Linked DNA regions of Homo sapiens: region 2 is linked to region 1. Evidence: fine-mapped expression QTL. A gene starts in region 1. The other region holds a variant in brackets. All regions are shown on one strand. Distances are between the middles of the regions.

Region 1 (11,374 bases):
CTCCAGCTTCCCCCACCGCTTCCCAGGGCCTCTGGGGCCCAGGAGCTGCAGCCATCTGGATTGCCCAGTTGGGGAGGGAAGGTAAAGGGGCTGAGCCTCTTCTCACATGAGGACTAGAAGGGCTTCAAAGAAGAGGTTCTCTGCCCAGGGATGCTCTGACATTTATGGAGCCCTTCTCTCCCCACCCCAGCCCCTCCAAGCTTGTGCATGCCTTCCCCATCCCCCATATGACGCTTCCCCCTCCTAACCTCACCACCCCCAGCACTCACACTTCCTGGGGGCCGAGGCGGGGAAGAGAGACCGCAAGCCACGAAGGGGGAAGGAGGCGAGGGGAGTTGGCTGCTTCCCGGTGCTGTGGGGGTTAAGTCTCTGCCCAGCTCCAAATCCCCCAGTCCTGGTTCTGGGGCTCCTGAAATGAGGGAGACCTTAATGCTTCCCTACATTTTCTTTCCATGACACCAGCCCTTGCCCATAGCCCCTTAGTCCCCATCAAGGGAAATATGAGGAAGATAAAAGATGGCGGAGGAAGGAATGGGGGCAACTCTCTCAGCCTTAGCGCCGCCACCTTTGGGTATTCCCTGCCATCATCCAGCCCTCACTCTTGCCCCTCTCTTGGCCTCCTGGTTCTGTCCCCTCATTGCCTCCTCCGACCCTTGTCTTCCCTCCACAAGTCCACCCTTTGCTTTCCTTCCTTCAGCCCTCCCTGAACTCCGCATCCTCTCCACCCCATCAGTGTCCCTAGGCCTCCTCCCAGGAACTGTCCCTGCCTCTCCTTTCTCTTCCCCTTGGTTCTCTCTTGCTCAAACTTCTCCACTTTCTCCATTGGCCCCCTGCTCCAACCATCCATTCCCTTCTTCCCAGGCATATGAGGGGTGGAGAGCCGCAGAGGAATTAAATCAGGGACCAGGCCTGCCTTCCAATGCCTGGTCTTGCCAAAAGATGGTTGAGTTTAGGGCACCCACACCCCACTTTTGGATGAAGCAGGGGACCACAATTTGGGAGCCAGTTGGGGAGAATGAGTGGTGGAGGGGGGTTTGCAGCGAGAGCGGATGTGGGGTGGGGGTGGGGGGACAACCTGTGCCTCTCTGCCCGTCAGAGTTTCCAGCCCTGGAGCTGCTGGACTTTCCCCGGAGGGTGCCCACCCTGGACCAGGCAATTGTCCACTTGGACAGACTCTGGCCATCAGGATTCTCAGCAGGGTCTGCCTGGACAGTGCCAGCTCCCCTTAGGGCCTGAGGAGACCGCACAAGGTGCCAGGGTCTGCCCTGTGCCCACCCCCTCCCCCCCAGCCTAGTGTCTCCGGCTGGGTAACCGAGCTGGCTGGTAACCCCACACCCGCCAAGCCGCCAGCAGAAACCTGAGCCCCCCAGCCCCAGAGGACACCCCAGCCCGATCTCCGGAGCCCGGCTCTCTGCCAGCCTGTCCAGCCTCCTGGCCTGGCCCAGCAATCACTCAGTCCCTATAGGCCCCTCTTCTGCCTCTCCTGATCTGCTCGGGTCCCCTTAAACACTGAGGCCTCCCCACATTCCCGCTTCTCAAGCCCTCAGTTCCCTAAACTCTCTTGTGAAGTCTGGGCACCCTCTTCCTGACCTGTTTTTCAGTCCTCTGACCCTTGGCTAATTCTAGGCCTCCAAGCCCCCCTGGGGCCTGATCTCCCAAGCCAGAGCAGGGCCTACTCACCTGAACGCTGAGGGGCCTGGCGGCAACTCCTCCTGGCCCCTGGGGGCAGCAGGTTGGGACAGGTGGGGGAGGGCCAGGCTTGGGGGGAGGTAGGGTGGCTGTTCCCCGCTCCAGCTCCCTCCTTCAAAGGGGCCGCCCACGACCTGGCCCAGCCCCTCCCCCCTACAGCCTTAACCCTCTGGGTGCTGTCCCCCCTCCCCCCAGCTTGGAGGGAGGGGTTACCGGAGGGCTGGCGGCGTGGGAGAGGGCCCAGAGTCTCTGCCTGTGGTGCCTGAAGCCCCAGCAGAACCCACCCACTCCTGTCCTTACTCAGTCCTAAAAGAGGAAAAAGGTGAGGGGTAGGAAAGGTAGGAGCTGGGACAGTCCAGGAGGACAGAGATGAGGAGGAGCAATGGGAGAGGCTACTGGAGGTGGGACCAGGAGAAGGAAGAAGGGAGGGGAGGGGACGGAGGCAGCTGTGGCTAGAAGAGGGAGGAGGGGAACCCTGGACAGTCAGTGCCAGGGGTGACAGGTGCCTGGGTCCCAGCCCCTCAGAGTATGTGGGATGGGGACCACAAGGAAGCCCTCTAGACCCCAGCAAGCTCCTCAGTCCCCCTGGGAGCTGGCCGAATTCTCCCTACCCTGTACTGGGCTGGGGCCCTCAGGGGCTGGGCAAGGCGGCACCCCGCCCTCCCCATAGCCTCACCCCAAACCCACTCACATACCACAGTTCCTTGCCCGGGTGCCAACCCCTGCCAACCAGGCCAGGGGGCAGCACTCATGCCAGCCCCCAATAGCCAGGGGGATCAGGGGGAACAGAGCTGGCCTGAGGGGGATAGACAGATTGGGGGAGCTGTGGGCACCGAAAGAGGAAGGAGCTGGGAGGGGGCATCTGCTGGGAAGCGCCTAGCCCCACCCCTTGCGCAAGCTGCTGCCACCCTGGCCGGTTGGGTGGGACCCGCCTGGGCCTGAGGGGCAACTCAGGAGAGCTCTGAGCCCAGACATGGATGGGCCACCAAATTTCACTTAAACAACTCCTGGGGTCCCTTATTCCTGGAATGAGGGGTGCCCTAGTGACCCCCAGACACTAGGCCATCCCAAATCCTGCTAGGCTTGGGGGTACCATAGAAATGCCCCCTAAAATATCCCCTCCCCTTTCCCCCAACAGCTGCTGGCTCAATGCCGCTGGCCTGCTGCCCCTCACCAGCTCCCGGCCCGGTTGGCACCTACCCACCAGGATGCTGGCAGTCCTGCCCTCCTCTCCCTCCTACCCCCCTGCTCCCAGCGCCCCATGCCAACTGTGGGCCTGAGGTGGGGGAGGGTCACCCTGTGCCTTGGTGCCAGCCAGACGGGCCCAGGCCCCTAGGCCTTACAGATAAGGCCTAAGACCCTGTTCTCAAACCACCTCCTCAAGAGGTAGCACACTGGTCAGGGCCTACACAGAGAGAGCCTAGGAGGCAATGGACAGCCCTGTGAGTAGTTAATGAAGGCTCCACACCCCAGGGTGGGGGCCAGTGTCTCTCCCTACCACCAGGTGCCAACCTCCCGGCATTCCCCCTGCCCAAGCATTTGCTTGGGCACCAAAGTCCCTGCAATTCCTGAGAGCCCTAGTGCCTGCAGCCTGCAAGGGAGTGGGGTGGGGCTGCTCTCTGCCCTTTGATCCCCATAAAGGGAGGGAACCAGCCTAGAGGGCAGGGGGCAGGGAGGGAGTTCATGGGGCCCCTCTGTTTCACCCCTGCCAGGGGCAGCAGGGCAGGGTGTGGGCATCTTTTGGGTGGGGCCCTAAGGTGAGGACAGGTAGCATGTCTCAGCAAGGGAGATGGATGTCAATCATAGGTACACAGCATCCCATGGCAATGCGATAGCAAGAATAAAGTGGGGGGATGCAGAGGGTACCCACATTCCAACCCATCCCAGTTCTGACTTTCACCTTCATCCAGAAACACTTCCAGACTCAGCCAAATTGAGAGCTCAAGGACTACAACTCCCAGTGTGCACCACAATTGCTTTGTATGTACCTTGGGAGTTGTAGTCCCCCTTGAGAAGCTCTGGGTTCTCCTCTTCCCCAGAGCCTTGCTGATGGGTGAGAAGGGCAGATGACTTGGTCATGAATCTCCAAGGGGGCTAGGTTTAAGAAGAGGTAAAAGGCTAGGATGTCCATGGTGGAGGAAAGAGGACCCCTGCTCCCAGGCAAAGGGGGAGGAAAGGAGGAAGGAAGGAGGAGAGGATGTCTGTTGAAAGGGGCATATGGGTGGGGAGGAGTTGGGGGGACGGTGGAAACAGGAAGGAAACTGAAGCCAGAGACATGAGGTCGAAAGTAAGGGCCTGGGGGAGCCCCACTCTGAGGCCTGTCAGGGACTGGGATGGCATTTCCCCATGTCATTCTGTTGGCCTGGGAGGAAGAAGAGGATCAGTGATGTCAAAAGATAGCAAATTGACATATTTATGGGGGATCACTGTTTCATTTGCCTGCCATCAGCCCTCTTTTGCCTGGGGCACCTTCGACCCCTGAATCTGGCACAGGTATTTGCTGACTGGGAAGCTCTGAAGGCTGACCTGGTTCTGGGGAAGATAGCAGGCAAAGGAAGGGGTTTGGGGAGATCAGGGCTAGGCCTGATGGTGAATATGGTAGAGGTATATGTGGGGTTAGGCCCAGGTGTGGTCAGGGCAAGTGCTGGCAAATGAGAATGCTATCCTCCATAGCAGAACCATGGCATCTGGAGGCCTCAGGGAAGAGAGGGCTAAGATGTCCATCCCAAACTATGGGACAGGATGAAGAGGGCAGCCCTCTCTGGTCTCCCTGGGGAATTTGTTAAAGGTAGCTTTGTCCCTGTGCCAGTGAATATTAAAGATGGCAACTCAGGGGGCCAGGTGGTAGCTGGGTGCCTTTCCCTAGTAGAGGTGGAAGTCAGAAGTGGGCAGAGGACCTGCTTTGAAGCCACTTTTCCTGGGCTCCCCAGGGCTCTGGGACAGATGCTGGCAGGCCCCAGCCAAGACTCTTGCCAAGACCTAGGCCTGGCTGGGTGTGGGGGTCTTTCTTGTCCCCACCCCACCAAACACTTGATGGTGGATGACAGCAGCTCTATCCCCTTCCTCCCAGTCCCCCGGGCCCGCCTTGGCGCCTGGCCGCTTCTGTGTTGGCAAGAGTGGGGGGGAGGGGGCAGCGAGGCAACTTCAAACTGTCCGGGCAAAACGTCAAGTTTACTCACGAGTTTACTCAGCACAAGGAGGGGGAAGAGGCCAGGGCGGGCACACCCCATGCCAGGGTCCTATCCATCTGCCTGTCCCCACCTTCCTCCCCCACTGTTCTCTCCCGCCCTAGGCCAAAACAGGCATAGGCCCTAAGGCCTGGTGTCAGGGCAGTCTTAACTCTCAGGAAGGTCAGGGAGCCAAGCGGGGCAGAGGCAGGAAGCCCCGCAGCAGGCCCAGAGGCTTCTGTCAGAGGGCAGTGCCCTGCCTGGAGCCCATTCACTACTCATCTTGGGGCCTTGGTCTTGGGCCAGAAGAATTGGGTCTCTCAGCCATTAAGAAGGGGGCAGTACCAGGCCAAACCTTCTCCATCTGAGCAGTCCCCTGGGCAGTGACTTCTGACCCCAAATGCCCAGTCCTAGGCTGTCCCTCAGTCTGATGCCATCCAGGCAGCCATAGGATCAGGGGCTGGTTCTCTCAGCCTTGGCTTGGAATGGGGGGCTGGCACCCTATCTGACCTACTTCCCTTTCCTCCCCACCTGCTTTCATTTGCTTCTCTCCCCCAGCCTTCACTGTCCCCACCCCAGAGCGCTCCGCCCCCCATGCCTGCTGGGCCCCCTCCCCCACCCTTCCCCAGGGTGCCAAGTGCAGGCACACAAAGGGCCTGATGGTGCATTGTTAGCCCAGCCCCCGCTGCCCGCCGCACCCTCCCTGGGCAGGCACTAGGCCAAGGAGGAGCTGGGGGCCCTGGGTGCCAGGGGGCACCATGGGGAAGAAGAAGGGGACAGCACCTGTCTTCCAGACACTGGGGTCTACATCAGCCAGAACTGAGTAGTGATGAGAGTCCCATTAGAGCAAGCCTGTCTCCTTGACACCTGAGCCTAGTGGGCACTGCCTTCTTTCTTCCCCAGAGCCCCATTCTGGTGGTATTAACCCCTTTTTGACCCCTGTGCCAGGGCTGGGGGTGTGTGGTACCCAAGGGAGGGGACAGTGTCTGGGGGTGCCAGCAGGTTGTGTTGTGCCCACAGCAACCATGTAACAGAGGCACGCTGGGGGAGCTGGGGTCCCTGGGGCCAGGGACAGAGGCACTGACAGAGATTTCTCCTTGTTTCATCAGCTGCTCCAGGGGGAGCCCCCTACCCTTCTCCCCAGTTACCACTAAGGAGGAACACTAACTATCATCCAGACATAGTCACACATATGTCCCTCTCTAGCGCAGCACAACACTCCTTATGCCCACTCTCTCCTCCCCAACCTGATGTCCACTCCATGCCAGCTCTCCCAGCAGTGCCAGGCGGGTACAGGGGTGACCAAACCAGTTGGTGTGTGTGGGGCAGCAGGAGGCAACCCCATAATCCTCCAGGCCTCATCCCCACACTCACACATACTCCCTTAGGGACCAGACAGTTCCCATCCTGCTTTAACCCCTCACAGCCCAATCTGGTTCCCCCGTCCCTGATAAGCGGTCTCCCTCCTCCAGGAATAAGTTGGGGGAAGGGGGAATAGCTGCGCTGACTCATTCCCATTCTCGGCTGCAGCTAGGGGTCTCCAAGGCATTCGGGCGGGGGTCAATTCAAGAACACCCTCCACCTGGCCCGGAAGCCTGGACAGCCTGCCGGTCTCCCCCTCTCCCCAGCACCCACTTCCGGTGTCCCAAACTAGGTCAGCAGCGCTCGTTTCCTGTGGGTCAGCTAGCACCGGCGCCTCTGCCCCTCCCCTGCTCCGGACCCAGGCTCCCCGCCCCCCTGCCCCCCAGGGCGCCCCGAGGTCTCACCATGTCTCAGCCGCCCTTTGATACGTGGGGGTTGTGCGGGGCGGGGGGCAGGGGACCCGCCCTCTCTCTAAACACCAGCAGGGCCGGGGCGCCTGGGCAGGCACGTGTCCGGGCACAACCCGCTGCCCACGCCGCCCCCCCACTCCCGCCCCCACCTCGCTCTGGCCGGGACACGTCGCTCTCTTACTTGGGATGGGGTGGGAGGAGGGAGAGAAAGCTGGAAATTGAAAGCAGCGCCCCCCACCCCTTTGAATGGCAGCCTTCTGCCAGGCGCACTCTGTAGGTTCTACAACAACACAGTAGCGACCCCCACTCTGGGCTGGGGCAGGTGCGCCGGCGCCGGTGGGGGGACGGGTAGTAGGTAGGAGAATTCTTCCTAGTCACCCGCCCTCGCTCTTGGGTTCTGTGGTCATGAGCTGGCGTGGAAAAGGTAGCGGCGGGACTGGAGCCTGAAGGAAGGGAGTGGGATTGAGGGGCAGGGAAGAGAGCGGTCGTTCTATGTCGGTTCAGAGGTTGTTGCTGAGCCCCACTACCGCTGGAGAGAGCGCGGCTCTGGAAGCGCAAGAAACCGAATAGTCCAGCCGGTAACTTTCCCCCAAGCCGCGGCTCCTCCTGCGCCCCCCCAACCCCCATGCAACTGGCCTGGGGCCAATCCACCGCGCCAGGGGGCGCGGGGTGGGGGGGGGGTGCGCGTTGTCCTAGTTAGAGTCCGTCAGCGTTTCCATTCCCTCAACTCAGTCCGGTCTGGGGTCTCCCCCTAAAGTCACGAAGGAGACTGGGGGAACGCTCAGCGTCGCCTCACCCCCTCTCCATCCCGAAGCCGTCTGTCTGTCTGATCCCAGGAGAAGTGCAGATAAACTTTCTGGGGACCCTCCGCCTAGGGTTGGGGGGCATCCGCAGTTCCTTCTCTGTCTTTCATCTCAGTTAAAACCAATTCCAGAGACCCGGGGTGTTGGGAAAGCACAGGGAAGGGGAGTGGTGGGAATGTGATCTGCATGCGTGTGTATCTGGGGGTCCCACTTACAGGACGGACGAAGGACACTGCAGTAGTCTCGAGCCTAGTGAACCCCGAGCCAGGAGACAAAAGTGGGGTACACTCACCTCTCAGCCGTCGGGTCCGCTGGCTGGAGCTGCTGAGGCTCACAGTGTGGGAAGAAGCGCGTCCCCCACCAGGCCCGGGGGCTTGGGGCCCTGCTCCGGTCCTGGTCAGAAGGCCGCGGTCAGTTGCTCGCCGCTCGCTGCTGGGGGGCTCCTCCTCCGCCGCCCTCTGCCTCCTCCTGCCGCCCGCCCCCCCTCGGCCGCCAAGAGCCGTACATTCACCTGGCTCCCACCCGCCCCCCCCTCAGGGCCCGCCTCACCTGTCCTGCTGTCTCACCTGTCCTCCAGCTTGCTTTCCCCCCATCCCTCCCCTCCCTCCCCCCGCCCCTGCCACCCCCCAAACTCCCCCCCCCCAACACTTAGAAACACCCTCTGTCACTTCCTGGTTTTTCACCCGCCCCCCCAGGCCCCCTCCCTCCGCCCAATAAGGACATAAACTTCAACCCCTTCGTCCAGCCAGTCCCTGCAGAGCGCAGATGGGTCCCTCCCTCCTTTTTTGCCCCCTTCTCCAAACTCTTACTTAGCTCTCCTAGCCTTTCCCACCCTCCTCCTTTCCCTCCTTCTTTCCTTCTCTCTGTCTCCCTTCACCTGCCGCGGTCCCTCTCTCCCCCCCCTTTCTCCTGCCCCTATCTCTCCCAGTCCACCTTAACTCAAACTCCGCCCCCGGCCCCCATCCAGCCCTTTGCTGCTGCTCTGCCCGCCCCCTGCACGCCACCGCCCTGTCCGCTCATTGGCCTGAATACCCGCTCATCTCCAGTAGGTCTCGCCTTGCGTTCGTCCAGGGAGGGGGCGGAGCCGAGGGGCTGGCCTGGAACCTGGAGAGGAGGGGGGAGGGGGCAGTGTCCGCAGCGGCCAGGGAATCGAGCACCCCCTACAGGGGCTCCCTCTCCTTCAAGAGGGGCTTCTGTAGGGTCAGGACCTCAGGAGGGAAGGGTATGAGAGGTTAGGGATAGGCTGGGTGGGGGTGAATTGGGGACTTAGGGTCTTGAGGGAGGGGGTCCCGTGAGGGGCTGTAATCAGGTCAGGGACCTAGAAGGGAGGGGGAGGGGGAGCCACCAGGCCTTCGGCTCCGGCCCCTACGCCCCACCCCCTCTCGGAGGGAGCCGGGGAGTTGAGCCTGCGGGCGCCCTGCGTCCCTCCCCACGCGTGACGGTGCCCCGCGGGGAGGGAAGGGCGCCCCAGGCAAGCAGCCTCTGTGCTGTCGCCAGTGCCCGCTGCGGCCTTGGCATTGTCGGAGGGGAGGGGCCCAGTCTGCGAAGGGGGAGGGGGCGCGCCGACGCTTTTGCTCCCCACCTCCATCCCGCGGGTTCCCTAAGTGGAGAAACTGAGTCTCCACCGAGGAGGGATAGCTTGACATGAATTCGCTGAGAGACCCAGGTGGCGAGGGGTGCCTGGATGTTTTGGGATGTGTGGTATGTGTAGGTTTTGGGGAGGACCGGGATAAATACTTAGGAGTCCCCCAACTGAGAAAGGTAGCGGGTGAAGGATGTTTCTGACTGAGCCTGCGGAGCTGCGTACCCCAAAGGGCCCCTCCCACTAGTGTCAAATGGAATCAAATCCGGCTACCTAGGGCCAGGTTTGGCTCCCCTGCGACAAGCCAGGCCGAACCGGGTCGGACTCGCTTTCCCCTCCCAACCCCCCTCCGCAGGGGGCCTCCCTCCCTTTCCAGCAGGTGGCTTCTCGGGACACCAGCTCAACCTGTTGGACCACAATGGGCGGCGCCAGGGGGGCCCTGGCCCTCACCCGGGCTGACCCGGGATCCCCGCGCACGAGGGGCGGAGTCCAGGTCCCTCCCTCCCTCTTTCTCCCTCTCTCCCTCTCCGCGCCGGGCCGTGACTCAGCCTCGGGGCCGCTGCCCTGCGCCCCAGCCAGGGGCGGAAAGTGTGAGGCGCCCCTGAGGGCTCAGGCCAAACCAAACAGCCCCCCACCCCAGACATTATCTCACTGGAGAATTAGGGGGGCTATAGGAAGGAGGAGGTAGCGGCAGGCATGGGGCGCTCTGGCTCGAGTAATCCGCTCCGGGTTTTCCTATCGTCCCTGACCCCCTTGGGTCGCGAGGCTGATCACTGCTCCGGGTTTTCTTCTCAGCCCCGCCGGACAGATCCTGGTCCGGAGGGGCCCGGAGCCGTCCAGGCCGGGGTTTTCCCCTTCCTACTCCAGCCGTCTGGGTCGTGCAGGCCTGGTGAAGGGCTGTGCTAGGGGCTAGGCGGCAGTGCCACAAGTGAAATGGAGAGGGGGCTGCTTTGGGGAGGAAGGAGGATAGCCAAGGAAAGGGGGCGGGGGGCAGGGGGCGGGGGGCGGGGGGGGTGGGAACGTGGCCCGGGGAGGGCAGAGCCAGGGCTTCCAGAGGCAATAGAAGGGCGGGCTCCCTGGCACCAGCCTTTGGGTACAGAAACTCGAAAGGTGCCCAGTGCCTCAGGCTCGCCTCGCCCAACTTCCCCCATGTTTGAGGGTCGCGTTCTGCGTCTGGCTGAACATGACTGATCTTTCTGCGGCTAGATTGCCACTCCTCACCTCATTCCCAATGGTCCTGGAACCCGCAGTTAGTTCCTCAGTGACGCCCACCCTCCCTTGTCTCTCTTTTTCTCCTGGTGCAAATAGCTCCCCTCCTTACTCAGAAATCGGAGCGGGGAACCCCTACTTGAAATTCCCTCTTACCCCAACCCCTAACCACGCCAAACGACTGAAACAGCGGCGGCAGAGAAACGCTGACTGGGGACCCCGCCCCCTCCCATGAAACCCCTGCTGGGCCCCAGGGGCCGGCCGCCCCCGCCCCGCCACTAGGCCCAGACTGGAACTGGGAGCTGGAGGGCAAGTGAGGGGCCTGCAGGGGCCGCCTGGGGATAGGAGAGCGTCCCAGATCCGCATGTTAAGACTTAAATTTTTAGGTGACCAGCTAGACCTTAAATTTGGGGAGAGTAGCACGAGTTGGACAAATACCCAGAGAAGGAAGTGTTTACCCTAAGAGAGGAATGAAAGCCCCGAGTGGGAGGACTGAATACCTGGGGCTGGGGACAGCGACTCGGAATGACGGCCAGGTGCGCGGACTGGCCGGGCCACGTGCGCCGAAGGGTAGAAGCATAGAAGTTAGATGCTTGCAGAACCTGGGGGAATGAGGCCTTCAGGTGTTAAGAAAGGCGAGGCTTTGCCTGGGCGGGGTCCTGCGTGAGTGGGTCTGGGGGCCTGTTTCGGAATGTGGGGGGCTGAGCTGCAAGCGGAGCGTCAGCATGCGCCAGGCGCCCACCTCTTCTCCGCTGCTCCCCCCCATCCTCCGCTGCCTCCGCTTCCCTCGAAAAACCCGCCGCCCAGGAAACCGCTGGGGGCGCTCAGACCGCAGACCCCCCACGCCCCCCGCCCCCCAGCGCTCCCACCGCGACCGCCCAACCCACCTGAAGGGGCCGTGGCCGCCAGGGGTACCCCCCTCCCGCCGACTCCCCCCAACACCTGCGGGTGGCACTATTTATAACTCCGCGCCTATTCCGGGCCTCTGGGTTGGAGCCGGCTGCCGCGCAGCGCTAATCGCCGCCGGGATCTCTGCGCCCCCCAAGGCCGGGGGAGGCAAATTTAGCTTCAGGAAGCTCAGGGGAACAGTTTCCAAAACTCCACGTCCCAGAGAAGGCAAGACAACCCCTCTGCACTCAGCCTCCTTCCGAT
Region 2 (8,000 bases), 36 kb after region 1:
CTCCCCCTAACCAGAGTTCTTGTCTGGGCATTCCTCCTGGCCCCGTTTGCCCAGCCTTCCCTGCTGGAAACATTCCTGAGGCTTTCGCCATTTCCTGCCACTTCCCGCCCCTGTCCCCTCCTCCCAGTTGGGCTGCGAAGCCACACACAGCTTTTCCCCTACACCCAATCACCTGGACTTCCAGTAGGCAATCTCCTTTCTCCCTATGTAAATTTCAAGAGTCATACGTCTTTCTTTTCTTCCGAACGCCCACACCCGTTGGTCCTTCCCTGGCTCTGGATACTGTAGGCTCCCACAGAACATCATCTCTACAGATGAGGGACATCCTAGTGTGTGTTTGTGTGTTTTGGGGGTGTGAGGCTATGGTGGAATCCTTTCCTCATTCTCTCTATGCCCGAGAGCTGGCTGGAAATGAAGTGATAAAATTCCTTCTCAGGATTGGCTGGCAGAGTGACAAAGCTCTTCTGGAATGAGCACTAAGGGGAGATGTAAGAGTTAAGCACAGCATCTAACACACTTCAAGTGTTAATGTTGTTAATCAGGATAATTATCTATCTATATTTTAATTCTCTGAAGTAAATCTAAGGGTAATTCCAAGGTGAGCTGGGGGGAATACGTATTTTTTTTTTTTTGAGACGGAGTTTTGCTCTTGTCACCTAGGCTGGAGTGCAATGGCTCGATCTCGGCTCACTGCAACCTCCGCCTCCTGGGTTCGAGCGATTCTCCTGCCTCAGCCTCCTGAGCTGGGATTACAGGTGCCCGCCACCACGCCCAGCTAATTTTTGTATTTTTAGTAGAGACAGGGTTTCACCATGTTGACCAGGCTGGTCTCGAACTCCTGACTTCAGGTGATCCACCCGCCTCAGCCTCCCAAAGTGCTGGTATCACAGGTGTGAGCCACCGCGCCCGGTAGGAATACGTATCTTTGTTTTTTTTTTTTTGGTCACTTTCCAGCTTTGCCTGTGGCATTCTCCGGAAGAGCAGTGGCAGGAAGCCGTGGGTGGCAGGAATGGGTTTGGGACTGTTCCCTGTGTCCAGCTTCAACCCATCTTCTCCTGACACCCCTTTCTCCTGTACTTATTTTTCTCCTGTCCTTATTGACGCAGATGTGTCTTCTGATCTCTCTGTCCCTTCCTGGCCTGTAGTTTCTACTTCTCTTGGAGAACTGTTTCTTCCACCTCCTCCAGCCAGGCTCCTTCCCTGGTGTGAAGGATGCTGTGCTCTTTGGTGGGGCTTAGGGCCCTGTAAGAGGAGGGATGTGAATTGGGGTGGTTTGGAGTGGGAGTGGGGACCTGATTGCCTCATTCTCACCCTTGACAGTGTGCTGTGTTAACAAGCCCTGTGGAAAGGGGAGACAGGACAGTGCTTGGCTATGAGCCATCGGTCTTGGTGTGGTAGATGGCATACGTAGAGAACAAGCCGTGACCAGCATGTCCTCTTGTTCCCTTCTTGCCTGGTAGCTTCCTGATGTATCATCCAGGTTGAACTTTATTCCCCTTTTTTCACCAGCTTTGCTCTTCCTCTTGGCCCTGCTCTGCATCCATTGGGACCACTTACTTCCCATCCCCACTTCGCTAGCTCCAGTCCACAGCTGCTGTAGCAGAGGATGCTAATGGCCCAGGCTTACTGTATGGGGTAGCGGTTGGGGGTGGCCTGGGCTGGGGCCAGCCAGCTTTCGGGCATAGAGAGGGTGGGGGAATTCGAGTGTCCAACCAGGACAGGAAGGGAAATGCTGAGCTCTGAGATCTCCTCCCTTTTCCACCCCCAGCTGCCTCTGTTTCCTCCCTCATTCCCCTGTACTCCTGCCTGGCTTCCTGCCCCCTTTGGCCTGCGTGTGTCCGGTTTTGAGTGACCCAGACCTCCTATCTCCTTCCTTTCCGTCCCACTCTTCCATCCTTCCCTCCCACCCCCACTTTACTTCTCCCCAGATTACTAGTTGTTTGTATAGGGCAGGGGAGAGGGGCTTGGATAGCCCTACCCCCTGCTCCAGTTCGAGGTTGGGGCGGGGTGGGGGCTCAGCCCCTCTGAGCCTGTGAGTCAGCACTGTCCTCACGATTGGTCTCTCCCCTTAGCTCCCCGCCCCTGGGGAGGAGCCAGAAGCGCTGGGTCCAGCCTGTTCTCTTCTCAGCCAGAGAAGAGGCTCCACGTTGGGCGGGGATGGGGCCTGAAACTGTCTGGGTCTGAGCTGGGGAGCGGAAGCCACTTGTCCCTCTCCCTCCCCAGGACTTCTGTGACTCCTGGGCCACAGAGGTCCAACCAGGCTAAGGGCCTGGGGATACCCCCTGCCTGGCCCCCTTGCCCAAACTGGCAGGGGGGCCAGGCTGGGCAGCAGCCCCTCTTTCACCTCAACTATGGATCTCCTGCCCCCCAAGCCCAAGTACAATCCACTCCGGAATGAGTCTCTGTCATCGCTGGAGGAAGGGGCTTCTGGGTCCACCCCCCCGGAGGAGCTGCCTTCCCCATCAGCTTCATCCCTGGGGCCCATCCTGCCTCCTCTGCCTGGGGACGATAGTCCCACTACCCTGTGCTCCTTCTTCCCCCGGATGAGCAACCTGAGGCTGGCCAACCCGGCTGGGGGGCGCCCAGGGTCTAAGGGGGAGCCAGGAAGGGCAGCTGATGATGGGGAGGGGATCGTAGGGGCAGCCATGCCAGACTCAGGCCCCCTACCCCTCCTCCAGGACATGAACAAGCTGAGTGGAGGCGGCGGGCGCAGGACTCGGGTGGAAGGGGGCCAGCTTGGGGGCGAGGAGTGGACCCGCCACGGGAGCTTTGTCAATAAGCCCACGCGGGGCTGGCTGCATCCCAACGACAAAGTCATGGGACCCGGGGTTTCCTACTTGGTTCGGGTGAGTGAACATCCTCCTCTCCATTCCCCCGCAGACCCCCTCCAGTTCTAATGCTCACTCCAGCTTGGCCGGAATCTCTTTTTTCCTGCTGTTCCCCAACAACCCCGTTTCAGTGTCCTATTTCCTAAACCTTTCTCATCCCTTCCCCGATTCTGTAGCCCCTTCCCTTCCAGCTTTGCCTGGGCCCCCTTCCTTCTTTTCACTCCCCCACCCCCACCCTGGCATGCTTAGCACAATGCCCAGCATGGCAGAAGCTCTTAATAAGTGTTGGAATGAATGACTTCTTGATCTTTCCTCCATTCTCCTCCCGCTTTCTGGAGTTGTCACTCCATCCCAGCCAATGCCTGTCGGTCCCCTCCAAACTCTCTCCCCAGTGTGTGAGGTCCTTCTAGCCTGCCTTTTCTTTTTCTCCTCATTCCCTGTTGTCTTTCACCTTGGTTGTGGGATGTAGCCACGGGAAGTGGGCAGAACTTCTTCCTCTTTACTTCCCTTAGGGACCATATGGGTAAAGTCCTAGGGCCCTTTGTGAAGGGGCTGGGGTGGGGGAGCCGCTGACCTGCTGTCCTCTTCTCCCTCCCCTTAGTACATGGGTTGTGTGGAGGTCCTCCAGTCAATGCGTGCCCTGGACTTCAACACCCGGACTCAGGTCACCAGGTTAGTGGGGAGGGAGTGGATTGTGGGAGTCCTGGGATTAGTGAGGCCATGGGAAACAGAGGAGGGGAGTGGGTCACTTGGGTGCTGCTGCTGGGGGCTGATCTTTGCGTAGTAAAGGGGATTGAGAGAAAGCTGAGGTAGTGATTCCGCCTCTTACTGAAAGGAGGCCCCTTTGGCCCGGATCCTCCTTACCTATCCAGCCTTGGGAGTTGTGGGGAAGGTGGCAGAAGCAGCTGGCAGGTGGAGCTGGAGTAGAAAAG[G/C]GGGGTAGATGGAAGGTTGCTGCTGCCTTTGGGAAGGGAATGGGACATTTGGTAGCTGGAAGGGGGTGGGGCTATACCCATTGAGGCCCTAACCCAATCAGCCAGGAAGTGGCCTCTCAGTGTCATCAAATATTAAAGGCCCTTAATTCAATCCACCATGACAAAGAGCCTGGAGTGCCCTGGGAGTCTGGCCTGGCTTTCCCCTCCCCCAGCCCTGTGGCAGCCCCAGTTGAGTGGGAGGCAGGCAGGCAGGCGCTGGGTCTGAGTACCCCTCTTTCCCCAGGGAGGCCATCAGTCTGGTGTGTGAGGCTGTGCCGGGTGCTAAGGGGGCGACAAGGAGGAGAAAGGTACTTGGGGTCCTTGGGGATAGGGATGCTGCTGGGAAATGTGGAGGGGCAGTGGGGAGGCAAGTGTGGGGCATGTGGGGAGAGGGCCAGGAGGCAAAAGTGTGGTTTGCCTGTGCTGGGAACCCTCACCTTCTGAGACCCTGGGCCCTACCTTAGCCCTGTAGCCGCCCGCTCAGCTCTATCCTGGGGAGGAGTAACCTGAAATTTGCTGGAATGCCAATCACTCTCACCGTCTCCACCAGCAGCCTCAACCTCATGGCCGCAGACTGCAAACAGGTTGGTGAAGGTGGGCAGACGGACCAGAAACACTGATGGGGGTGCTAAGGGGAGATCTAGTTAGGAGGCCAAAATCTAGGAAGAGGGCTTGAGAGCAGGAGACCAGTAGGGAAGGAGGAAATGAGGATATGGGATAAGGAACCCAGAGAATGAGACTGGGGCACCAGGGTTCTGGGCCCTGAGGCTGCCTGACACATGGCATTCCCTTCCTTCTTCATCCCCTGCCCTAATTCTCAGATCATCGCCAACCACCACATGCAATCTATCTCATTTGCATCCGGCGGGGATCCGGTGAGTTGGGGAACAGAGCAAAGGCGGTGGGAGAAGAGCAAGGGGCTAGGGATTGGGAAGACATTGATTAGAGAAGTGGGGGTGCTAGGATTGTGGGGATATCTGAAAAGGACTGGGTTTTAGGGGTCAGGAGTAAAGTAGAACTGTAAAATTTTTTGACCTTCCTCCCCAGGACACAGCCGAGTATGTCGCCTATGTTGCCAAAGACCCTGTGAATCAGAGAGGTGAGGCATGGTGGGGAGCACTGGGTGGGTCTGGCTGTTTGAGGAGGTGAGTAGGACCTTTGGTCATCTGTACCCACTCTAAGTAGATCTCAGTGGGGGTTCCTGCAGAGGAAGATGAGGGCCCCTGTCTGTGCCTCCTCCCAGTGGGCTCAGCTCACTGACAGCCTCTGCTGTGCCCTCAGCCTGCCACATTCTGGAGTGTCCCGAAGGGCTTGCCCAGGATGTCATCAGCACCATTGGCCAGGCCTTCGAGTTGCGCTTCAAACAATACCTCAGGAACCCACCCAAACTGGTCACCCCTCATGACAGGTGAGCAGGTGGGGAGAGTGTGGAGCAGCTCTTGGATTAGGATTAGGAAAGGAGGGCTGCTCTTCCTACACTTGAGTTGAGAGGTTCAGGGAGGGAATAACCTGTGTGCCTCTGCTTCCCACTTCCTGCTATTCTTCTGTTTCCTGTGGCCCAGGAGGAAAGACTTTTGAGGCCCTGCTTGCCGCAGGACCAGCTTTTCTTGTTTGCTCATGGTGGAGTTGTAGTCCGGGGCCTCCAAGTTACATCTCTCTCTGGCTAGGTGGGATTTTCTACTCCCATCCCTCTTTCTTGCTCATTTCTCTGCTTGGCATTATGTGTTTTCCTGCCTCTAGAAGCCATCAAGAATTTGGGTTTGGGAGGATATCTCTTTTCCCTGAGATTACAACCTTTCCCACCTCAGGCCTTGAGGGATAAGCAGTGGAGCCAGTAGGGATTGAATATTTAGGAGAGGTTAAAATATTCTGGAGCTGGAGTGCCTCCCCCGGCCCCCCACCCCCCTACATGGTGCTTCCCTTCCTTGTTGGGAGATAGCACAGAGATCAAGAGCAAGAGCATTACTTATTTGAGACAGTCTTGCTCTGTAGCCCAGGCTGGAGTTCAGTGGTACAATCACAGCTCACTGTAGCCTCCATATCCTGGGCTTGAGTGATCCTCCCACCTTAGCCTCCTGAGTAGCTGGGGCTACAGGTGCATGCCACCACACCTGGCTGAGTAGTAGTATTTTTATTCTGGTAGAGATAAGGTCTCGCTATGTTGTCCTGGCTGGTCTTGAACTCCTAGGCTCAAACAACCCTCCCTCCTTGGCCTCTGAAAGTGTTGGGATTATAGGCGTGAGCCATTGCACCTGGCCAAGGGGATGAGCTTTAAAGTCAAACCTGAATTTAAATCTGAGCTCGGCCGCCTTTTAGTTGTGAGACCTTGGGCAGATCTTTTCACCTCTGACCCTCATTTTCCTCATCTGTAAAAGTGGGGAAGGAAACAATACCTACCTTACGGGGTTGCCAGGAGAATGAAATGATTATGTATATAAAACACTCAGCCTCAGGCTTAATCCATAGTAAATACCCAATAGATGGCTGCTGTTCTATTCTGTCCTTCCCTCCTCCTGCCCACCACACATTTACAGCCACAGCTTCACTGTCCTGTCCCTCAGGATGGCTGGCTTTGATGGCTCAGCATGGGATGAGGAGGAGGAAGAGCCACCTGACCATCAGTACTATAATGACTTCCCGGGGAAGGAACCCCCCTTGGGGGGGGTGGTAGACATGAGGCTTCGGGAAGGAGCCGCTCCAGGGGCTGCTCGACCCACTGCACCCAATGCCCAGACCCCCAGCCACTTGGGAGCTACATTGGTAAGTTGCTTGGATGGAGGCGGGCTGGGGCTAGGGTGGGAGTGGTTGGTTAGGGCTTCTGGTCTCACCTTATTTTTATCCCTGCAGCCTGTAGGACAGCCTGTTGGGGGAGATCCAGAAGTCCGCAAACAGATGCCACCTCCACCACCCTGTCCAGGTATGAAGGGAGCCGAGATAGGCAGAGCTGGGGAGTGTTGGAGGCAGGGCTGGGATCACTGTAGAGCCTCCCTTTCCTCAGCAGGCAGAGAGCTTTTTGATGATCCCTCCTATGTCAACGTCCAGAACCTAGACAAGGCCCGGCAAGCAGTGGGTGGTGCTGGGCCCCCCAATCCTGCTATCAATGGCAGTGCACCCCGGGACCTGTTTGACATGAGTGAGTGCTCGTCTCTCTCCTCTCTGCATCCCCACCTTTCTACTTGGTTCTGGCCCTTCTCCTGCCTATCTGCTCTTTCCTTCCTGACTTCCCTTCCCTGAAGTCTGGGTCTTGGGTGTGTGTTGTGCCTGCTACTTCCCCTCACCCTCCCTCTATACTTCCAGAGCCCTTCGAAGATGCTCTTCGCGTGCCTCCACCTCCCCAGTCGGTGTCCATGGCTGAGCAGCTCCGAGGGGAGCCCTGGTTCCATGGGAAGCTGAGCCGGCGGGAGGCTGAGGCACTGCTGCAGCTCAATGGGGACTTCCTGGTACGGGAGAGCACGACCACACCTGGCCAGTATGTGCTCACTGGCTTGCAGAGTGGGCAGCCTAAGCATTTGCTACTGGTGGACCCTGAGGGTGTGGTGAGTGTGGCAGAGGTGTGGGTGAGGGGTGGCAAAAAGGAAGGTACAGTACCCTACAGTGTATCCCTCTTCCTTCCCTCATTGCTTTGTAGACATTCCCGCTGGGCAGCTGTCTATGGGCCTCTCTTGCTCTTTAAAGTGTCTGGCATCTTCCTCCAGAGGCTCATCCCTTAGCCTGAACTATGTTCTTTATAGTCCTGGCACAGGGCCAGGCGTGGTGGCTCACACCTGTAATCCCAGCGCTTTGGGAGGCTGAGGCAGGTGAATCACCTGAGGTCAGGAGTTCGAGACCAGCCTGACCAATATGGTGAAACCCTGTCTCTACTAAAAATACAAAAATTAGCCGGGTGTGGTGGCAGGCACCTGTAGTCCCAGCTACTCAGGAGGCTGAGGCAGGAGAATTGCTTGAATCTGGGATGCAGAGGTTGCAATGAGCTGAGATCACACCACTGCACTCCAGCCTGGGTGACAGAGTGAGACTCTGTCTGAAAAAACAAAACAAAACAAATACAGTCCTGGCCCGTCCTCAAATCCCCAAGCCTTAAGCTTATCAGAGCTAGAAGGCAGTCATCTCATCTGTGCCCCTCTTTTGACAAATAAGGAAACCACCCTGAAGAGGTTGTGATGCCCAATGTCAGATGGTTAGAGGCTAGACACTGCAAGTT

What was found. PIP is the estimated chance that this variant, and not a neighbour inherited with it, causes the effect.
Region 2: its variant is fine-mapped to the expression of ZBTB7B in whole blood (INTERVAL, PIP 0.98).

Annotation. Positions count from the first base shown.
Region 1 is chr1:154,999,293-155,010,666 of GRCh38, reverse strand. ZBTB7B (zinc finger and BTB domain containing 7B) reads right to left here and starts at 7,865. Exons shown (of 3, transcript NM_001256455.2): 1 at 7,724-7,865. RefSeq lists enhancers at 12-761, 2,263-2,977, 5,221-5,893, 10,757-10,816, 10,334-11,286 and silencers at 5,387-5,436, 5,497-5,546, 6,597-6,716, 8,427-8,616, 8,727-8,966 and 4 more.
Region 2 is chr1:154,964,878-154,972,877 of GRCh38, reverse strand. SHC1 (SHC adaptor protein 1) reads left to right here and starts at 2,131. Exons shown (of 12, transcript NM_001130040.2): 1 at 2,131-2,846; 2 at 3,430-3,500; 3 at 4,044-4,107; 4 at 4,264-4,383; 5 at 4,621-4,674; 6 at 4,847-4,898; 7 at 5,081-5,207; 8 at 6,361-6,559; 9 at 6,647-6,716; 10 at 6,798-6,932; 11 at 7,097-7,335. The coding sequence starts at 2,352. RefSeq lists enhancers at 2,253-2,803, 2,804-3,354. The variant G/C (reference allele first, on the strand shown) is at 3,761.